Homo sapiens: one gene and its partners. The protein of the gene in region 2 purifies or fractionates together with the protein of the main gene of each other region. This does not show direct contact. Each region holds a gene or a part of one and is shown on either strand. Other genes may lie near its edges.

Region 1 (3,654 bases), on a different chromosome or scaffold from region 2:
AAAGGCTAAAATGTACCAATACTTTCTCAGGAGACAAGTGTTTGACGAAACAAAACAAAAGGGGAAAACCCTCTAGTCTTAGGATACTATTGCTTTAAACTTGGTATCAGCCAGGTATTTCTTTGGTCTAACCCTGAAAAAGTACAAATTACACACATCCCCACACTTTCAAAATATGCCAAAGAATTATTTATTAACACAAGACTTACAGATCACAAAAGAGAGTGATACAGAAGAGCTGGAAAAGAAGTCATCAGAATAAGCATGCAGATCAGTATTTGCAGAGGAATATACTAAAGTAAATTTGAAGGCACATTCACACAGAAAATGTCTAAATTGAAAAAAAGACATCAGAAAAGCAGCCAAAAAAAAAAAAAGGTGCTAATTAAAATACAAAGATTTTCAATGTCAAAGAAGAGCTACTTTACAGATAGGTAGGTAGGTAGCTACAGAAGTCTTGCTAACCCTTTGAAAATGTCACAGATGAGGGTCAGCTCTTGCTGCCAATAAAACCATATGATTTTAATGACTGCACGTCAAGATGCTTCAGTGCCGCAGATTAAATTTAGTCAGGGGGAAAAAACAGCCTAGTTGAAATTATATGCAGCAAGGCCTCAAAGGGTTAAATGTAATAATACGCAGAGAAATCAGGCAATGTTATCAGTATTATCTACCTTCCATACAAATGATTATAGCAAGAGTTAAAAGAGACAGTATCCCCTTCAGAGTTAAGTTAGGGCTTCTAAACAGGATTAAGGTCCGCAGATAGCAATCTACCAGGTTTTATTCTCTCTTCATCAGCTCACTTCTTATTTCTCCAACAAGAAGTACCTTTAACCCTCAAACTAAGAGAGCAAGAGATACTGTGGTGAACATGAGGATAAAATAAAACTACATTACTTTGAATAAGTCCTTGCCATTTACCCTCTACAATACATTGATGCAGCAATTTTGCACAACAGCAATATAGCGCATTGGTCAGACATCAACCCCTTTTAACAACCGCTCTAAAGGGATACTGCTCCTTTCTGACAGGAGGTTTACAGATCAATGGGAGGAAACAATCTGCTTTTAAGAATATCCTCCAACTGAAGAGTTAGCTTGAACATTACAGGCTCCAAGCTGAGGATGTTCCAAACATACATAAAAGAACATGAGCACAGAAGATTATTTTAACAGGTCAGTAAGAACAAGCTTGGTCAAAAAAACCAACCTCCAAATAAAATGGGGGAAAAAAAAAGACACCCCAAACCCGGATTAGCCTCATTTCATAAAGACATCTACCTTGGCACTGTGAAAGAATATAGATTCACTTTCAGAAAAATAGTTTCTAATTAATAACTTCAGAGTCCAAAAGGCTAGTATACATGTTATGAGATTTTTAAATAAAAATCCAATATTGTTCAGAAAACAGAGCACTTTGCAACCAACTGCTGTGGTTCAAGCAGCTCATAAAAAAAAAAAACCAACAAAACAAAACCCACAATCACTCTATCAAACAAACAGCAGCAAAAAAATAAGAAAATTTCTGAGGAAAAGTACAAAAAAAAAAAAAAAGACAGAAAGTAGACAGTCAAGGGCACAGGAGCTCTTCAGACCGCCCACTGCATTTGAAAAATACCTTAGCAAGTAGCAACATGAAACATGCAATGTCTCTGCTAACTTGCTCCTGATTCAGCAGCCTGTTTAGCAATACCTACAACATTTCCATAACCAAAGGATGGATGCAATTTTGTTTTCCGACTTGCCAATTTGACATATGCAAAAGCTATAGGACTTTACAATTTCTGCCTGAATCTGTAAACTTGGAAGTGTCTCACGTGTCCCCCCTAGTTAGACAAAACCAAATCCTTCATATGCATAATACATTTTCTAGAATAATACAGTGATACTGAGATATTTCTCATTATTAAAAGGCCACAAAATAGGTTTATCTTTCTATATACATATCAAAAAACAAAACAAAAGAAAAACCAGGACACTTGGGAATCTAGTTTTTATGACAGAAGTTGAACTAGAGAGTAAATTGCTACATGTAAATCTACACAGAATTTAAAGAGGGCTCCCTAATAAGATGTTTTCAAACATTTTATCAGAAAGTTAGCAGTTACCCTATCCTAGCATCTACAGATTTGTTACAACTTAATATTTCCAGTAATAGAGTTAACACTGAAAACAGCTCCTGGATTCCACTGACAACACACACCCTCCTCTTTGCCAGGCCCTGACATACAGAACATTCATATATAAACTCTTTCCCTCTTCTTCTCTTAAAAGGATGTGGCAAACTGCACTACAAGTGGTTAGAAATTTTTACTTTCTTGACCTAACAAGAGTTAATTTCTGTAAATCAAACAGAATACTATACTGGCAGTTGCTGTGTATACCCAAGAGAAGAAAAAAGGAGAGGGAAACACTGATTTTACTCACAGAAATGAAGGAACACTGCCGGCACTGCAAAGGTCTTTATCAAATTTCTGGCAATGTGAGGTTCACTTAGCAGTGACTTTTTATGTGCCTCTAACACCAAGCTGGTGCTAGATTTCAAAAATAAAAATATCTTAGCTACCCAATCTAAGTTCCACAGTAGCCATAGTATCCATATCAAGTATCCATAGAATCAAATTTAACACTGCTTTAAGGAGACTGGCAATAAAGAGGTTGATTATTAGAGATTCATAAAGCTAAAGGGCCAGAGCCTTACTCATGTAAATCAACACCCGCAGAATCATCTTTGAAATCTACAACACCATCACCAGAGCAATCTCACCAATTCCTCACCTGCAGCAGGAGGATGCTGGCCACTAACTGTTGGTAAATCCAAAGAGCTATCAGACATGACATGCTTAAGATCTCCTCCCACATCAGCCAATTTCATGTCAAACTGAACAGAGAGTGCATCTTCAGAGTCCTCCTTGCCAACACTGCTGCCACCAATGGAAGGGAGATCTAAGGACTTCACTGATGCAGAGTCTTCTTTGGTGTGTCTGAAAGCCACTGCTTTCTCTCCCAGGGATTTGTCCGAGTTTATGGAAGAAAATTTACTGGAGTGGAAGTCAGCAAAATCATCATCACTTTTTCCTGAAGGAGTGTTATCTTTCAGGTCTTCAACACCTAGTCCAGACCCTTCCAGAGAAAGTTGTCTGAAGACATCGTACTTGGTAGACGCAGCAGTCGAGTTTTGTCCACCCTTCACTGTGCTGCCCACGTTGCTGGTTAGAGGAACAGGACTGGCTTCCTCTTTAAGGGCATCATATTTGTCATCCGGCTTTTGCTCAGATGAAATAGAGCTATTACTGAAAGCCATAAAATCTGCAAAGTCATCCTGCTCCCCAACAGGTGCTAGACCAGAATATTCCCCAAAAAGGCTGAATTCTCCAAAATCATCAGCCAAACTAGAAGTTTTTGTTGCTGCCAATGCTGTCATAGTAGCAGCAGAACCTGTTGACTGTGGTGTAGAAACTGATTTTGATGTGCTAAACACAGCTGAAAAAGACAATGGTTTCTCGCTGCTGCAATTAACTGAGGAAAACATATCTAGGTCTGCTAAGTTCAGAGGGTTTTTCACTTGTGTTTGTTGTTTCTGTTGTATAGTTCCTGAGGGGAAGGATGGTGGAAAAGTTTTGTCTTTTGTTGGTGGCTCTAGTGGTGATA
Region 2 (3,654 bases):
TCCCTCACACCATCTCTTGTAACATTTTACTTCAGCCTTTATTTGATCATTTCAATTGAATTACTACTGTTTCCCCAAATGAACCATGTCCTTAATGGCCCCTGTACCTTTACACATATCATTCCTTCTGCCTGGATGTCTCTTGATGGCTCCTCCCAAACTCTTTGCAATTTAGACATACCTTCCACTGAAAAGCCTTCCCTAGTCACTCCAAGACCCTATCCCATGACCATGTTCCAAGAATACCCATATTTAGTCTTTTCAGAGCCCTTAGCACACTGTAATGTAACTGTTTACTTTTCTATATCTCTTCCCCTAAACTATGAGCTCCTTAGGGACAGACACTACTACTTTTTATTTGTAGCACCTAGAACAATGCCTAGCACATAACAGGCATTCAATGAAATATTGCCACAGGATAAATGAATGAATGGATGGATGGATGAATGGATGAATATGGACAATGTAGAACTTTGAGGAGTCTAATCAAAACACCAAACTGGCCAGGCACGGTGGCTCATGCCTGTAATCCCAACACTTACAGGCCGAGGCGGGTGGATCACCTGAGGTCAGGCGTTCGAGACCAGCCTGGCCAACATGACAAAACCCTGTCTCTACTAAAAATATGAAAATAAAAAATATGAAAATTAGCTAGGCATGGTGGCACATGCCTGGTTCCAGGTACTTGGGAGGCTAAGGCAGGAGAATTGCTTGAACCTGGGAGGCAGTGGCTGCAGTGAGCCAAGATTGCGCCATCGCACTCCAGCCTGGGCGATGGGTGAGAATCTGTCTTTAAAAAAAAAAACAAAACTCCAAACTGTATTTAAAATCTAAAATGTAGCTAGCTGCTCCATTAGAGTAGCTACATAAGTAAGACTTATAATCTCTCAAATGCATATATTGGGAAAGAGGAAACAAAAAGAATATCACAAACATATTTTCTATTTTATAGTCTCACACTAGTTAAGATAAAGCCGAATGTTTACATCGAAAGGATTGATGGAAGGTGCTCAGCTATGAGCTAAGAAGGGATCACCAGAAGATCATTTGTGTGCATGCTTTTCTGACTCCTGGCAGGAGAGTGCTAGGCTACTTTTTGGGCTCTCACCAAGTCCTGCAGTTCTCTCAGTTGTTTTCCTGTCAGTCCCCCAATGCCCAGATCCTCCTCGTCCTCTTCTGGCTGGGCACTGACATTACCAGAAGATGGCCCCTGTTTGATAAAGAATTCTTCATGCTGGTCCAAGAGGAGTCCATGGAGCATCCAGGCTGAGAGCTGTTTATACATGACCCCATGACAAACGGCCAGGATTCTGGGCAGAGTAGAAAGTAAGAGGCTCAGAAGTCATGCTTTAAACTGTTACAGGATAAACAGAGGCCTGAGAATTTGATGAGTCATAACAGAAATAACCAATTAAGTTAAAAATAATTGTGCTATTTTAATTTAAATGTGGGTGAACTAACTCACTGAATTTCCATATTTGCAGCCTACACAATGAAATCTAAAATGTTCAGTATATGTGCTGATATTATTTTAGGGAAGACATTTTCTTCCCTTCTTTTATGTAATTTTCAAAACTGATGGGTCCTAAATATGTACAACTGTTTTATAGCAATAAAAAATAAAAATAATAAAAAATTTTAAAAATCGACTTAATGGAGTCTCTTTTTGGCTAACACAGTATTAAATTTGTTTTATTTTTGTTGGAATCACTTAGGGAGAGAATATTCAATACGTGAGTGCCAGGTATACATGAAAAACCATTATCTAGCAAAATTCAGAAACTAAAACAAAATGCAGAATGGTTGTTGGGGAATAGGATATTCAGATGGTCTCAAAGGATCACCCACCAGATAGCATATTAATTAAAAAGGGGAAAATGTACCTCTATAATGGAGCAGGACGTGATGAAAACACCTAAGCCAAGTGATCCAACTTCATAACATCCGTGATGGGATAAAGTTACTTTCTGTACCTTCTAATATGATGTAATGGGAAATAATATCACCTACATAGTATTCTTGCCAAAAAATGTTTAATCTGAATCTAATCATAGGGAAACAATAAATCCAGATTGTGAAACATTATACAGGACAGCTGGTCAGGACTCTTAAAATGTCAGCGTCATCCAAAACACCAAGAACAACAAAAGGCAAGGGGGACGGTTCTAAATTAAAGGAGACTAAAAAGACATGAGAACAAAATGTAGTATGTGAACACTGATCGGATCCTGGATTGCAAAAAAAGAACAGCTATGAAGGAATTCTGAGGGACAACTAGAAAAATTTGGATATAGTATTACTGAATTAATGTTAACTTTCTTGGGTGTAATATGGAATTGATGTTCTATAAGAGAATCCCTTTTTCTTTTATTTTTCTTTTTTTCTTTTTTCTTTTTTTTTTGAGACAGGGTCTCACTCTGTTGCCCAGGCTGGAGTGCTGTAGCACGATCATGGCTCACTGCAGTTTCGACCTCCTGGACTCAAGCCACCCTCCCACCTCAGCCTCCTAAGTAGCTGGGCCCACAGGCGCACACAGCATGCCTACTTTTTTTGTATTTGTAGAGACGGGGTCTCACTATGTTGCCTGGGCTGGTCTCCTAGGCTCAAGCTATCCACCCACCTTGGCCTCTCAAAGTGCTAGGAATACAGGTGTGTGCCACCATGCCCAGCCAAGAATGCCTTTTTTCTAAAGTGATACAAGCTGAAGTATTTAAGTGTTAGGGTATCTGTGACTACTTTCAAATGACTCTGCAAAAAAATTTGTGCATTTCACATATACGTATAGAAGGAGAAAAAGAGAAATCAAACGTGGCAAATGTTAACAAATGGTGAAACTAAAGGATACACTAGCGTTTGGTTGGTTTTTTTTGTTTTTTGTTTTGAGACAGGGTCTCATTCTGTCATCCAGGCTGGATTACAGTGGCGAGATCTCAGCTCACTGCAGCATCAACCTCCTGGGCTAAAGCAATCCTTCTGCCTCAGCTTCCCGTAGCTGGGACTACAGGCAGGCACCACACCTGGCTAATTTTTTTATTTTTGGTACAGACAGGGTCTCGCTATGTTGCCCAGGCTGGTCTCGAACTCCTGGGCTCAAGCGATCCCTCTGCCTCAGCCTTCCAAAGTGCTGGGATTACAAGCGTGAGCCACCGAGCCCAGCCTACAAGTGTTTTATTATACGTTTCTTTCAACTTTTTTGTAGGTTTAAAATTTTTCAAAATAAAAGGTTGGGAGAAAAAGAAATTACAAGAACTTGACTGTGTTATTTAACTGAATGGAATCTCTCTTTAAAAAGATCAAATGTGAAGCTATTTACATTTATGCATTTCTGAGTATGTGGTCTGTAAAGTTTGGTCCCTGCAAACACAGAACAAACATGTATATATAGTATCATCTACATTAGATTTTATATTCTATACACAAAAGTATAATAGAGAATTAAGTCCCTAAGGAATGTTCTGGAGGATTTACTCATGCAGTGGTTAGAGTGGAGATTAAGAGTTGTGAGTGGCCGGGTGCGGTGGCTCACACCTGTAATCTCAACACTTTGGGAGGCCAAGATGTGAATATCGGTTGAGCCTAGGAGTTCGAGACCAGCCTGGGCAACATAGCAAAGCCTTCTCTCTACAAAAAATTAAAATAAAATAAGAAAAAAAG
Region 3 (3,654 bases), on a different chromosome or scaffold from region 2:
ATTAATGAGTTTGTTTCATTTTCAGAAAAACAAAGTCACGATTCTTTAAAACAGATGATCTGGTTTTACACAAATAAACCAATGTGAGTGAACTAAGTTTTTGGTTTCTTAGCTGCAATCTGGTCAAACTGACCCAAGCCTAGAAATTTAAAACTTTCCATTAGTTGTTAAGTGTGGTGCAGATAAACTTTATGTTGGTTGAAAATATATAAAACTCACCCTTGTAAAGCTTTATGAATTTGTCCGCACTTTTCCTTCAACACTGCAAAAATACCTAGATGAAAAAAATACGTTTGAGAGTCTATTTGAAACTTATGATAGTACTAACCTAAAAATATTTTTGAAGACCCAGATCAAGTTCATCAATTTAAAATGCTACAAATCCTTCTACATACTAACAGAGCCAAGAACCCATACTCCCCTGAAGGCCCAAGCTTTGTCTCTGGTGCGTGCTAACTGGCCCCTTCTCACCTCAGTATCCCACTTTCAACAAACCTGGAATGATGCTTTCAAGAACAATCAATGCCTCTTGTTCTCATCAAGATCCTAATCTGGCTAAGAATCAAAGGGTACAAATTTATTGCTTATTTCTTTATCCTAAACAATTTGGTAAAAAATCAACTATAGTAAAGTAATTTTTACAATCTTTTCTTGATATTTTCCTTTTTTATTCAAGGAAAATCCCAAAACTAAAGTATCTGATCAGAAGGTAGGCGTGCCAGGCCATCTGAGAAGCAAGCATATGAATGAGCACAGAGACACACATTTTCTGGTTCTCTGAATTAGTATCAGTGATGAAGATTCAGAAATACTGTACCGGGTAGGGCCTGCTGCTCCCTTTCCGTTTTAAGCTTTGCAAAGGTGGCACTGTCATAGCCAAAGGCCACATTTTAAATTCTTAGTAGACTTTTTATTTTTCCCACTGAGTAAGTTCTTTGCTGGTAAACCCGGCTTGGCCTCAGTACCAACTGATGATTCAAAGGCTAAAGGTGAAAACTCACAATATTTATAAAATTGCACAGATAAAAAAGCAGCATGCTTCAGCTGATTTCTCAAAAAACTATTAACCAAATAAAGACTGGCTTATTTACACCAATGGAACGTTTAGGCCCAGAACTGGCTGAGAGCCCCTCGTCCTCCCAGCATCTCCACCCACTATCTGAGCTAGCCTTGCTTTGGCTCTGGCTCTGGCCCCAAGCACAGGAGAAAAGCTCTGACCCCAAGTCCTTGGGGCAGGAATAGCTTCTTCACTGCCATTCTTCCTATGAATGCCATATAATGTAACTGCAAACCAGTTTTGTCTGGCAAATAATTTCTCCAGTAAGTAAATCAGTAACACAACTAACGTAACCTGAAATCTCTTTGATTCCTTGGGTTTTTAAAGGGTTATACCTGGATTCTCTTCCATGATGTTGAGGGCCTCAATTGCTGCAGCAGCTAACAGGGGAGGTAACGAAGCTGAAAAGCAGTATCCCTGGCCGGAAAGTCGCTGAGAAGAAACAAATGAAGACATATACACATTCTCTGTCCTTTCTAGGTAAACATTTGAAAGGCACCAGTTCTCTAGAACAACTACTGAACAGTGTGTACATGTGGTGAGGGGGGTAAGATCCAGCCATAAATAAACATTATACGTGTAACAGCAACAAGACTTTTTGTTAAATGTGAGATCATTTCTAAATAGAAATATTTTGAGTGATTCTTTAAAAATTGACATTTAAATAAAAATTGTGTGATAAACTAAGTAAAATTTCGTATTTCAAAATTATATTTTGAGGTGACCAATGGAGAAATTAGTTTCAGTTTTAGCTCCTGTTTTTAAAAAGAACCCACCTGATGGTCAATTACAAAAGACCTGCCACAGCAGAAACCTCCAATAGAAGCAAGTGCATTCTCCATGTTGGCACTGATAAGATCAATATCATCAATCTGCCGGAAAAGGAGGAGTGACAGTTATTCCACAGTTTAAAGAAAAAAAAGGCCAACTTCAAGCCTAGAGACAAAATTTAACAGCATTAAACTGTCTGTTAATATCTGGATTCAAACTACCTATCTACATGAAAATAAAAAATAAACCATATAACATCTATCGCTGAATGAACTGTAGTCTCATGGCCCATCTGAAACTGTCTCATTTTATACATTTTTACCATTTCATTATACATGACAAATTAACTCACAGCAAAGACAAATAAATTATAAGAAAATAAAACCCAAAGCTGTTCGATATTAAAAGTAGTCACAGGTACAAAATAAGACTATTTCCTCGCTAAAACAGTGGTCTAGCTGGCCTTCCTCATGGGATGCACTGAGATAAATAAAAAGTCTATCGAAGTTTTGAGCACTTTATTCTTGTATTCAGTTTGCCTCTCAGCATTTCATAAGTCAATTTATCCAAACGTCATGGCGATGGAATCTTTGACCAACTGGACAGCAGAAGAACCTAATGTGCTCTAAAATGACCTAATGGGCTTTGAGTCCTACATCTTTCTGACCACTCAGAACTCCTTCGGTCCTCATCTTTGGGTCCAGCCCTCAGCACCAAGTTCCATTCTGGGCACACAGTAGGCATTCAATCATTACTTACTGATGGCCATGTTAATGGATTGTCAGAACACAGCTAGTGTTTTCCTTAGTGTTTCATAGATCCAGCAGAGTTTTGAGAAACTCTGCACTCCTGCCCTTTTTAAAAAGCATGTTTAAACCTTTCATTATGAAAAATTTCAAGCCTGAACAAAGTAGAACAGAACAAAGAATCCCCATCACCCAGATTCAAACATTATCAACTCAAGGACAACCTTGCTTCACCTATATCCCCTACCACCCTCATCATTTCTTTGTAGTGAGTCCCAGACTTCATGGGGTTTCATCTATAAACATTGCACTGTGTATTTCTAAAAGATAAAAACTCTCTCAAAACATAATCACAAAACTAGTATCATACTTAAGACATTAACAATTTTTAAATGTTAAGTTTAAATTTGATGTTAAATATATTCAAATATTCAGTGTTCAGATATCTCTGATTGTCTCACCAAATTTTCTTTTAACAGCATTTGTTTGAATCAGGATCCAAATAAAGCCCGTACATTCTGCTCTCTACTCTCAGGCGCTTGTGAGTATTTCCTCACAGTATTTCCCAAAGTGACAACTGCTGGAAGCATTCACAAAACTACAACAGTGAAGTTCAAGTTTTTTCCTCCATAAAAATTTTCATGCCTTAAAAAAGGCTGTAGTGTACTGCTAAATCTGCTTGAATTACACTTCCATTTATCTTTCCATTTATTCCATTTACCTCCTCGGTGCATGTAACTGCTGAATGTCAGTCTGCCTTGGAGGAGGTGCTTCCATCCAACCTCCCGGGATATTCACTCTGCTTTACATTTTTCTCTGGGACTATATGGTTAGCGGGATGTCGATAATGTAAGGCAATTTTACGTTTTATAGTTCAACTCTGTAACACAGGTTGCACAGCTCTTATGCGCATGTTTTGGAGAAAAAGCTTTCTGTAACTCTTCCCATGGTGGTTGGTAAGACAGCTGTTCAAGACTGGCTGACTTCCTCTGCCCTGAGGCTCCAGGAGCAAAACCCACTAGGCACTGCGGGCAGTCTGGGTCCATTTCCCTCAGAAAAGGAAACATGACACCTCATTCT

The links.
Region 1: the proteins of TUBGCP4 (region 2) and SYNRG purify together in Homo sapiens (affinity purification with mass spectrometry; one large-scale study listed by BioGRID and IntAct). This does not show direct contact.
Region 3: the proteins of TUBGCP4 (region 2) and SPTLC1 purify together in Homo sapiens (affinity purification with mass spectrometry; one large-scale study listed by BioGRID and IntAct). This does not show direct contact.

Annotation. Positions count from the first base shown.
Region 1 is NC_000017.11:37,550,334-37,553,987, forward strand, and holds part of SYNRG (synergin gamma), read right to left. Parts: coding exon 2,782-3,654; intron 1-2,781. UniProt on the Homo sapiens protein: Plays a role in endocytosis and/or membrane trafficking at the trans-Golgi network (TGN). May act by linking the adapter protein complex AP-1 to other proteins. Component of clathrin-coated vesicles.
Region 2 is NC_000015.10:43,380,959-43,384,612, reverse strand, and holds part of TUBGCP4 (gamma-tubulin complex component 4), read right to left. Parts: intron 1,311-3,654; coding exon 1,109-1,310; intron 1-1,108. UniProt on the Homo sapiens protein: Component of the gamma-tubulin ring complex (gTuRC) which mediates microtubule nucleation.
Region 3 is NC_000009.12:92,045,780-92,049,433, forward strand, and holds part of SPTLC1 (serine palmitoyltransferase 1), read right to left. Parts: intron 1,930-3,654; coding exon 1,834-1,929; intron 1,490-1,833; coding exon 1,393-1,489; intron 275-1,392; coding exon 220-274; intron 1-219. UniProt on the Homo sapiens protein: Component of the serine palmitoyltransferase multisubunit enzyme (SPT) that catalyzes the initial and rate-limiting step in sphingolipid biosynthesis by condensing L-serine and activated acyl-CoA (most commonly palmitoyl-CoA) to form long-chain bases.